Linked DNA regions of Homo sapiens. The protein of the gene in region 1 interacts with the protein of each later gene in a pairwise test. Each region holds a gene or a part of one and is shown in the gene's direction. Other genes may lie near its edges.

Evidence for each region. Proteins that work in one complex are often made in the same cells at the same time.
Region 2: the proteins of ITGB2 (region 1) and NOTCH2NLC interact in binary tests that used the Homo sapiens proteins (3 or more experiments, as listed by UniProt).

The regions. Positions count from the first base shown.
Region 1 is NC_000021.9:44,900,400-44,905,548, reverse strand, and holds part of ITGB2 (integrin beta-2 isoform 1 precursor), read left to right. Parts: intron 1-2,013; coding exon 2,014-2,184; intron 2,185-3,815; coding exon 3,816-4,057; intron 4,058-5,073; coding exon 5,074-5,149.
Region 2 is NC_000001.11:149,455,797-149,460,120, forward strand, and holds part of NOTCH2NLC (notch homolog 2 N-terminal-like protein C), read left to right. Parts: intron 1-4,324. UniProt on the Homo sapiens protein: Human-specific protein that promotes neural progenitor proliferation and evolutionary expansion of the brain neocortex by regulating the Notch signaling pathway.

The DNA.
Region 1 (5,149 bases):
TGAGGCTGACAGAGGTGTTGCCTGTGGCCAGAGTTTGTGCAGCTCTGTGGTGCTGGAGGTGTCAGGAAGGATCGTCCTGGAGGGTGGGGGTGCGCCTGAGTGGGGGCATCCTTGTGCCGTGGGGAAGGGTGGGGGAGTGGCTGCCCACGGCCTGGCATGCATCCCCACTGTGCAGGGGGCAAATGCTGTGGCCTCTGGGAGGGCACAGGTGAGCTCGGGTGGATGCAGGTGAGGGTAGGCAAACTCGGGTGAGCACCAGGGAGAGATCTTAACAGCACCCCAGGGCCACAGGCTCCCAGAGCAGGGCGGCAGGATCTGGGAAGGGACTGTCCTCTCGCGGGGTCCTGGCCCTACCCCCGCAGCCTGCTGGCCCTTCGCTGAGCCTCTACTCTGGAAGGGAAGGGACGGGGCCCCTTGGTCAGCCACCAAAGGCCTATGTCTGTGCCCTTTGACTGCAGCATGGCCACATTGCTCGTGGGGACATGGTCTTGGCTGCCTCCTCCATGTCGCTGCAGACGCCGCACGGCCCCCAAAGCCAAACACATTTACTGTCTGGCCCTTCATAGAAAGTGATTGGGGTCCTTGGCCCAGAGGCCAAGTGAAGCCTCTGAGGGCTGCAAGGCACAGCAGGGCGAGGGCCAGGGCCAGGAGTGCCGGGTGTGAATGTGGGTGAGTGTGTGTGTGTGTGAGCGCATGTGTGTGTGGTGTGTGTGTATGCATGGTGTGTGTGGTATGTATGTGTTTAGCATTGTGTGGGGTGTGTGTATATGTGTGGCACGTGTGTGTATGGGTGTGAATGCATGTGTGTGGCATGTGTATATGTGTGTGGCATGCATGTGTATGTGAGTGCATGTGTGTGGTGTATGTGCGTGAGTGCATGTGTGTGTGTTTGGTGTGTGTATGTGTGTGCGAGTGTGTGTGCGTGCATGTGGTGTGTTTGTGTATATGAACAAGTACATATAGTATGTGTGCTTTGTGTCTGGTGTTGTGTATGAGTGTGAGGTGTGTGTGTATGCGTGCATGTGTGGTGGTTGGTGTTTGTGGTGTGTGTGCATATTTGTGGTGTGTTTGCTGTGTGTGGGTGCCATGTGCGTGTATATGTGGGTGCGTGTGTGCTACGTGTGACTGTGTGTGCATGAGTTATATTTGTGTGTGAGTATTGTGTGTGTGCATATATGTGGGTGTGTATGCCATGTGTGACTGTGTGTGCATGTGGTGTATTTATGTGTAGGAGTGCGTGTGTGTGTGTCTGTGAGGAGGGGCACATACCCTTTCTCCCAGGGTGTGGCAGCAGGCAGGTTGGGGGTGGAGTGGGCTCTGCACTTGTCCTGCCGCCCAGGGGGGCTGAAGGCTGGAGGGTGGGGCAGAGGGGACAGGCTTCGTCACCCTCCCTCCCTGCTCATTCATTAACATGATGTGTGTTTATGGAGAGCTGACTTGTACCAGGCACGGTTCTGGGAGCCAGGGACACAGGCTGGTTGCGGTGACAGGTAAACAGACAGCTACACAACCGCACGTGTGACTGAGACGCGGGCGAGCGGAAGTCCAGGGCTGGGATGGAGAAAGGGGCCTCCTGGGGACGGCCCGCGTGGGCCTTGCTGGGAAGTGCCAGGTTCGTGTGATGCCTGTCTATGTGGCTGCTGATGAGGGCGCCCGTGGGACTGCAGGCATGGGGCCGGGTTAGGTGTGAGCCCAGGTGAGCCGCTGCCACTCTCAATGAAAGGCGTCCCCAATGTCGCTGGCGTCAACTCTAAGCACCCCAGGCGGGTTTCAGTGTCACTGCGAGGCACATGCCTGCGTCCGGGAGTCATGTCCTTCCTCTGAAACTCCAGCCTGCCTGGATGTCCTGTGTCTGGTCCTCAGCTCTCCTGCCAGGCGGGGAGAGGGGAGGTCAGGAGGATTTGGGGGCTGGAGGAGAGGGTGCCAGTGCACAGCCCGCTCGGGGCCACACGCCCCCAGACACCCTGTGTGAGATGTGAGGTGTGGCTCCTTTTGTTCTGTCCCCACCGGCAGGCCAGGCAGCAGCGTTCAACGTGACCTTCCGGCGGGCCAAGGGCTACCCCATCGACCTGTACTATCTGATGGACCTCTCCTACTCCATGCTTGATGACCTCAGGAATGTCAAGAAGCTAGGTGGCGACCTGCTCCGGGCCCTCAACGAGATCACCGAGTCCGGCCGCATTGGTGAGGCCCAGGCACTGCAGGACAAAACCCAGTCCTTTCCCAGACCCTGGCCACTCCTGCCTGTGGCCCACACAACTCCTCGCACTCAGGTCCCCAGGGTAGATCTGGGGGCCCCAGATGCAGGTCCCCCCAGGGCATCCACAGGGCTGCAGTCGGCCTGCCTCCCTGCCAGGGGCCACACCCAGTCCCTGGCTCCCCAACACTTGTAGACATTGTCCAGCCCTCCACTTCCCCTTCCATCTTCTACTTCCTTTATTTATTTCTTGGTATGTTTAAAAGACAAAATTCTGACAGTGCCAATTATTAAACATTAAAGACCACAACACATATAGACGGCACAGCGACGGCAGCACTGAAGAAACCACACAGCAAGCTCTGCTGGGCCAAGGGCTCCGCTCTACACCAGCACTGCCTTGCCACAGAGCAGGTCTCCAGCACACGTGTGTGTCAGTCACAGCGCATGTCTTCCCCGCCGGCCGTGGCTTCTCACATCGGCACTCTGCCACCTTCCCTACATGCGGGGATGCACACATGCACGATAACACACACACACACAAGCAAATGCATGCTCACACAAATGCACGCTCACACACAAATGCACGCTCATGCACGTGAATGCACGCTCACACACAAATGCATGTTCACACATGCAATGCACACTCACACACAAATGCATGCTCAAACGCAAATGCACGCTCACACATGCGAATGCACACTCACACATGAATGTATCCTCACATGCACAAATGGATGCTCACACACGCGAATGCATGCTCACACACAAAAGCACACCCAAACTCAAATGCACACACACGTGAATGCATGCTCACACACGTGAATGTATGCTCACACACATGCTCAAACACACAAATGCATGCTCTCACATGTGAATGTATGCTCACACATGAATGTATGCTCACACGCAAATGCATGCTCACACACGCGAATGTATGCTCACATGCACAAATGCACGCTCACACACGTGAATGCACGCTCACACACAAATGCATGCTCACACACATGAATGCATGCTCACACTTGCATGTGCACACACATGCACACACAGTCATACACACGTGCAAGACCACATGTGCACACAGACATGCTCACATGCACACTCATGATCACCCATGTATGTCTTCACTCACATGTATAAATCGTACATAAACACACATGCCCACATATGTACCTGGTCACCTACGTGAACTAGGTGTGTCCATACCTGAACATGCTCACATGCATACAGGAATACGTGCACACACAGTTGTGCTACGCATGTACACACTCATGTTTACACATGCAGATGGCTGCACACACAGATACACATACGCACCTGTTCACATGCCCACATGTATACCTGGTCACACACATACATGCAGGAACACACATGCATACACTTATGCTCATCCATGTACATTGCACACTCCCAGGTTCACACACACGCCCACATACGTTCACATGTGTGCTTGCACAACGCACATGCTCACACACACACTCCACATGTGCCATCTTGCTTTCTCCACCTCCCTGCTAGGAGAGAGGAAACAGGCTTGCCCTCGTGCCCCTTTGAAGCTGGCCCTCCCACCTGGGCCCAGCCTGCCACCTCCCCAGCCCCTCCATGTGCCCTGCAGGCTTCGGGTCCTTCGTGGACAAGACCGTGCTGCCGTTCGTGAACACGCACCCTGATAAGCTGCGAAACCCATGCCCCAACAAGGAGAAAGAGTGCCAGCCCCCGTTTGCCTTCAGGCACGTGCTGAAGCTGACCAACAACTCCAACCAGTTTCAGACCGAGGTCGGGAAGCAGCTGATTTCCGGAAACCTGGATGCACCCGAGGGTGGGCTGGACGCCATGATGCAGGTCGCCGCCTGCCCGGTGAGGCCGCTGCCCCTGCTTGGGTCCCCACGTTCCCCCAGTGTGGGGGGCTCTGTCAGGCGCTGTGTGGGGGCAGGGGGGTACCCTGGCCGGCAGGTCGTCTGAGGGACTCCAGCCTGGGCCTGGGGAGAGCAGCTCCTCACCCTGCTGCTGCCCATGCAGGAAAGGGCAGGAGGAAGGGAGGGTGACCACGAGGGCTCGAAAATCATGCGCTGATTTCATTGTTTGCTGTGAGTTAAATTTGTGACCCTGGGCAAACCTTATGAAGCCTAAACATTTTGCGAGCGGCCAAGGGTGGAACAGGGCCGCTAGGCAGCAGGTCCCGTGGTTCCTGGGGTGGAACCACCCTCCTCCCTCCAGGCCGGGTGGGCGCTGGCTGCCCAGTGTGTGTCGCTCTCCACGTCCCGCCCACCCAGTTTGTGACTGTCAGCCTAACAGAGCAGCCACAGTCCCTGGGCCATGTTGAGGCCACATGCACTGTCCTCCCCTCACAACCCACCTTAGCTCTCCTGCTTCCCTGCAGTCCCAGCGCAGACACACTGCTCACGAGTGTGAGGTCACAGCCTAGGACACGCACGGCCCCCACATGCGCCTGCCAGGGGCTGTCAATGGTGGACTCAAGGCCTGCTGGGCCCCTCAGGCTCGTTTTCCTCCATGTTGCACTCGTTCTGCGTGTGGCCCACACGTCTGCGAGGGTTTTTCCCCTTGGGGATGGTTTCCTGAGGGTTTGTTCCCAGCTCTGAAGTGCAGGGACCGCAGCCGTGTCTCTCTCCTTGCCTTTCCACACGTGCCTCCACTCCCTGCGCCTCACATGTGCACGGGGTGTTTGAGGGCCGTTGTCTCCTCCTGGGCGTGGCGTCTGGGGGAACACAGCTGGGTCCCTGAGACCCAGGGGAAAGGGGGACCCACACCAGCCTCCGGGCCACCCCACCAGCTCTGCATCGTCTCCTCTGCTCCAGAGGGCCGGGTCTGGGAAACTGAGGCAGGTAACCCTGCCCCCCACGCCTTCTTCTCAGGAGGAAATCGGCTGGCGCAACGTCACGCGGCTGCTGGTGTTTGCCACTGATGACGGCTTCCATTTCGCGGGCGACG
Region 2 (4,324 bases), on another chromosome or scaffold:
CTGCTTAAAGTATATATGTCAGGGCCAGGTGCGGTGGCGTACGCTTGCAATCCCAGCATTTTGGCAGGCCAAGGCAGGAGGATCACTTGAGGCTAGAGGTTTGAGACCAGCCTGGGAAACATAGCAAGACCCCATCTCTACAAAAAAACAAGAATAAAAATAAAACAAAATTAGTCATGTGTGGTGGTGTGCACCTGTAGTCCTAACTACTTGGGAGGCTGAAGTGGAAGAATTGCTTGAGCCCAGGAGTTTGAGGCTGCAGTGAGCTATGATCGCACCACTGCACTCTAGCCTGGGTGACAGAGTGAGACCCTGTCTCAAAAAAAAAAATATGTACACCAGGATGGGGAATCAGAGTTTACTTCACTAAAAGAAATAAGTACACTGTCACCAGAGGAAAAGTTGCTGATGTTATTGACTATTTGCTTTTAGAAATCTCCCTCCCTAGACATTCAGGGCACTGGCTTTTCTGGTTTTCTGAACCCTGTTCCTTTTGCTTCTTCATTACCTTGTTCTTATCCATTAAATGTTTGTGCTCCCTGGAGCACTGTTTTTCGCCCTCTTTTGAGCCACATCACAGCTCTCCCTAGGGAATTTCACTGTCTGTATTCGCCTCCACTGCCACTGTCTTCATTAGCTTGCTGATGAATCTCACCATCATTCCCTTAGCTCCACCCAACCCTGACATTCAGGCTCATGTTTCTAGCTATCCTTTGTATGTTCTCCTTGGAGATATTCTACAGGTACTTTCAGCTCACCTTGTTGACAGAAATACGTAGCAACCATGTACATCCCAAATACCCACGCTAGAAACTCCCTGTCCCTTGTTCTGACCTCATTTCAACTCAGTCACCCAAGCCAACCTCTGAGTTGCCTTTCACCTGTCTATTCCTCCCATTTCCTCTGCTACCCTGTAGCTGAAGGCCATGTTATCTCTCACCTGGGCTTCTGAAGTAGTTTCTGAATACGTTTTCTTGCCTTTATTCTCTCCCCATCTCATTCACCCATGATATTACTACATCTTTGATTATAAATGCAAATATTCTAACAATCTCACCTGCTTACAATGTCTAATATTTTTTCATCATCCGCAGAATAAACTGCAAACTCTTTTACATGACTTCCATAGCTCTCTACAGCCTAGACTTTACATCTTTTTATAGCCTGGCCTCCCCACAAGCATCTAGGCCTAGTCACACCAAATTCTCCTTATTTCCTGAAAATGTTGTACTTATTATTGCTTCCATACAGTTACACACCCTTTTGCCTGGAATGCCCTTTTCTACAACTGGTGATTGTCCAATGTTATTTAAAACTGTGTCTTAGTGACCCTTTCATGATTCCTTTAGGCAAATGGTCTCTAAGTTTTATTAGTTTTATGTATCACATTTTATTGTAATTTTTTTTACACATATCTCACCTGAATAGATTGTGGGTTTTTCTAGGTGGGTCTGAGCTTTATTCAAAAGTGTTTATTAAATTAGATGAGAAAAGGAGGAACATTCTTCATTTTTTCTCCTGCTTTAAGCACTAAACCAAGAGTTCTATAAATGCAATAAGCAAAAAAGTGAAAAATGTACTCAGAAGACTATACTGGATCAGTTAGTGTAGAATACTGTTATATTAATTTTTCATTGTATTAGGGTTCTCTAGAGGGATGGAACTAATGGAATATATATGTATGTATATATATTCCAACCCAAAGTGTCTTGGTGGCAATCTTAATATATATATATTGGCAATCTTTATATATATATAAAGGAGAGTTTGTTAAGTATTAATTCACATGATCACGAGGTCCCACAATAGGCTGTCTGCAGGCTGAGGAGCAAGGAGAGCCAGTCTTGAGTTCCAAAACCGAAGAACTTGGGGTTCGATATTTGAGGGCAGGAAACATCCAGCACGGGAAAAAGATGTAGGCTGGGAGGCTAGGCCAGTCTCGCTTTTTCATGTTTTTCTGCCTGCTTTATATTTGCTGACAGATGATCAAATGGTGTCCATCCAGATTAAGGGTGGGTCTGCCTTCCCCAGCCCACTGACTCAAATGTTAATCTCCTTTGGCAACACCTTCACAGACACACCCAAGATCAATACTTTGTATCCTTCAATTCAATCAAGTTGACACACTCAGTTTTAACCACCACAAATCTACCCCTTGTCAACTTGAACCCATACACATCTCCTGAGATCACACATAATCTTCAAATAAAGACAATAATTAGGTCATAATTACACCTGATGTAGTACAACTATTCTTCGTACATCCGGAAACACACCAGTCCCCAACTGAAACACTCTTACATAAAGTTAACGATACTTAAATGCTGATGTGAAGTCAATAAATCTTATGTCACATGATAAAGGAGAAAGGAAATAAAATGAAGATATTTTCTTAGTACAAGTGTGTGCAAGCACAGACATGTTTTTAATAAAAGAAGGAGGAAATACTGAGGACAATTACAGTCCTCATTTCTGCAGCTGGTCACATGGTAGTAGCTGGTATTGATGACTACCTTCTTCTACCCATTTTGTATTCCTTTTGCCTTCAGCAAACACCTCAGCAGGTTGTGTTTTTTTTTTTCCTGATGGAGAGGCCCAAACCTTCATTCATCCAGGCGGGACCATTTGTAGTCCCGCCTGGATTGGGCTGTTGTAGTTGCCCATTGACCTTAATCACAGGGCATGGTAATACTAAGAGACGCCCTAATGGATCTCCTGTATTCCATGAATACTCTTTCTTACCTCCGTTCTGGAGTAGTAGACTGATTTCATCTTGATAGCCTGGGTCTTGATAGCCTTGATGTCCCAGCCAACACTGTAACGCCTTTCTTAGCCTGTTTACTTAAAGGTAGGAACCCAAAGTGTCCTGGTGGCAATCTTAACTACCAGTTTAATGGAATTGTTGTTGTGTCTTCTGGTGGCAGCGTTCCTCCCTCTGGAACTAAGACCTCTAGGCCAGCAGAACTTAATGTTGCGGGAACAGGAAGCAAACATTTTGCTAGTGGATCACTAGGGGTGATGGTGAGTGGTACCACTTCCATTTCCACCCCTTGATTCCTGGACCTGTGAATCCTGGCTATGGGAGAAACAGTACCACATATTGGACGCTGATTCAGAGCATACACAGCCTTCTTGAGAACTTTGCCCCAACCCTGCAAAGTATTCTCACCTAGTTGGCATTGTAATTGTGACTGCAAAAGGCCATTCCACCGTTCTGCTTCAGGATGTTGGGGAACATGGTAAGACCAGTGAATTCCATGAGCATGAGCCCACTGCTGCACTTCTTTAGCCATAAAGTGAATGCCTTGGTCAGAGGCAATGCTGTGTGGAATACCATGACAGTGGATAAGGCATTCCATGAGTCCGCGGATGGTAGTCTTGGCAGAACCATTGCATGCAGGATAGGCAAACCCATATCCAGAGTAAGTGTTTATTCCAGTAAAGACAAACATCTGCCCTTTTCACAATGGAAGAAGTCCAACATAATCAACCTGCCACCAAGTAGCTGGCTGATCACCCTGAGGAATAGTGCCATATCAAAGGCGCAGTGTTGGTTTCTGCTGCTGGCAAATTGGGCACTCTGCGGTGGCAGTAGCCAGGTCAGCTTTCCACCGGCCCATCTTGTTTTCTGCACTGGGAAGGTGGGGCATGAGCACAAATGTTAGGACCTGAAAGGTGGTGAACTCTGCCTGGGCAGGGCAAAGCCAGAGGAAACTCTGGTGGAGGTCCGTAGCAGTCCTGATGTGCAAATCGGTCATCCAACCTGGGTGTAGGGGCGAAAGACTAATTGAACCATCTAGTAGCTGGTTCCCTCCAAAGTTTCCCTCGGGATAGCTGGCACTCTCGCAAAAACCCCACTCTTGGTACCAATTTACTGTATTAGTCCATTTTCACGCTGCTGATAAAGATATCCCCGAGACCGGGAAGAAAAGAGGTTTAATTGGACTTACAGTTCCATATGGCTGGGGAGGCCTCAGAATTATGGTGGGAGGCAAAAGGCACTTCTTTCATGGTGGTGGCAAGAGAAAATTAGGAAGAAGCAAAAGCAGAACCCCTGAGAAACCCATCAGATCTCATGAGACTTATTCACTATCATGAGAATAGCACAGGAAAGACTGGCCCCCATGATACAGTTACCCCACTGGGTCCCTCCCACAACACATGGGAATTCTGGGAGATACAATTCAAGTTGAGATTTGGGTGGGGACACTACCAAACCATATCATTCATCAAAAGGTGTTGGTGGGGTAGAGGGTAGTTAGGATGATCCATGATCTCCATCATGATGATGATGGTATTGATGATGTAAGTCACTGAAAATATT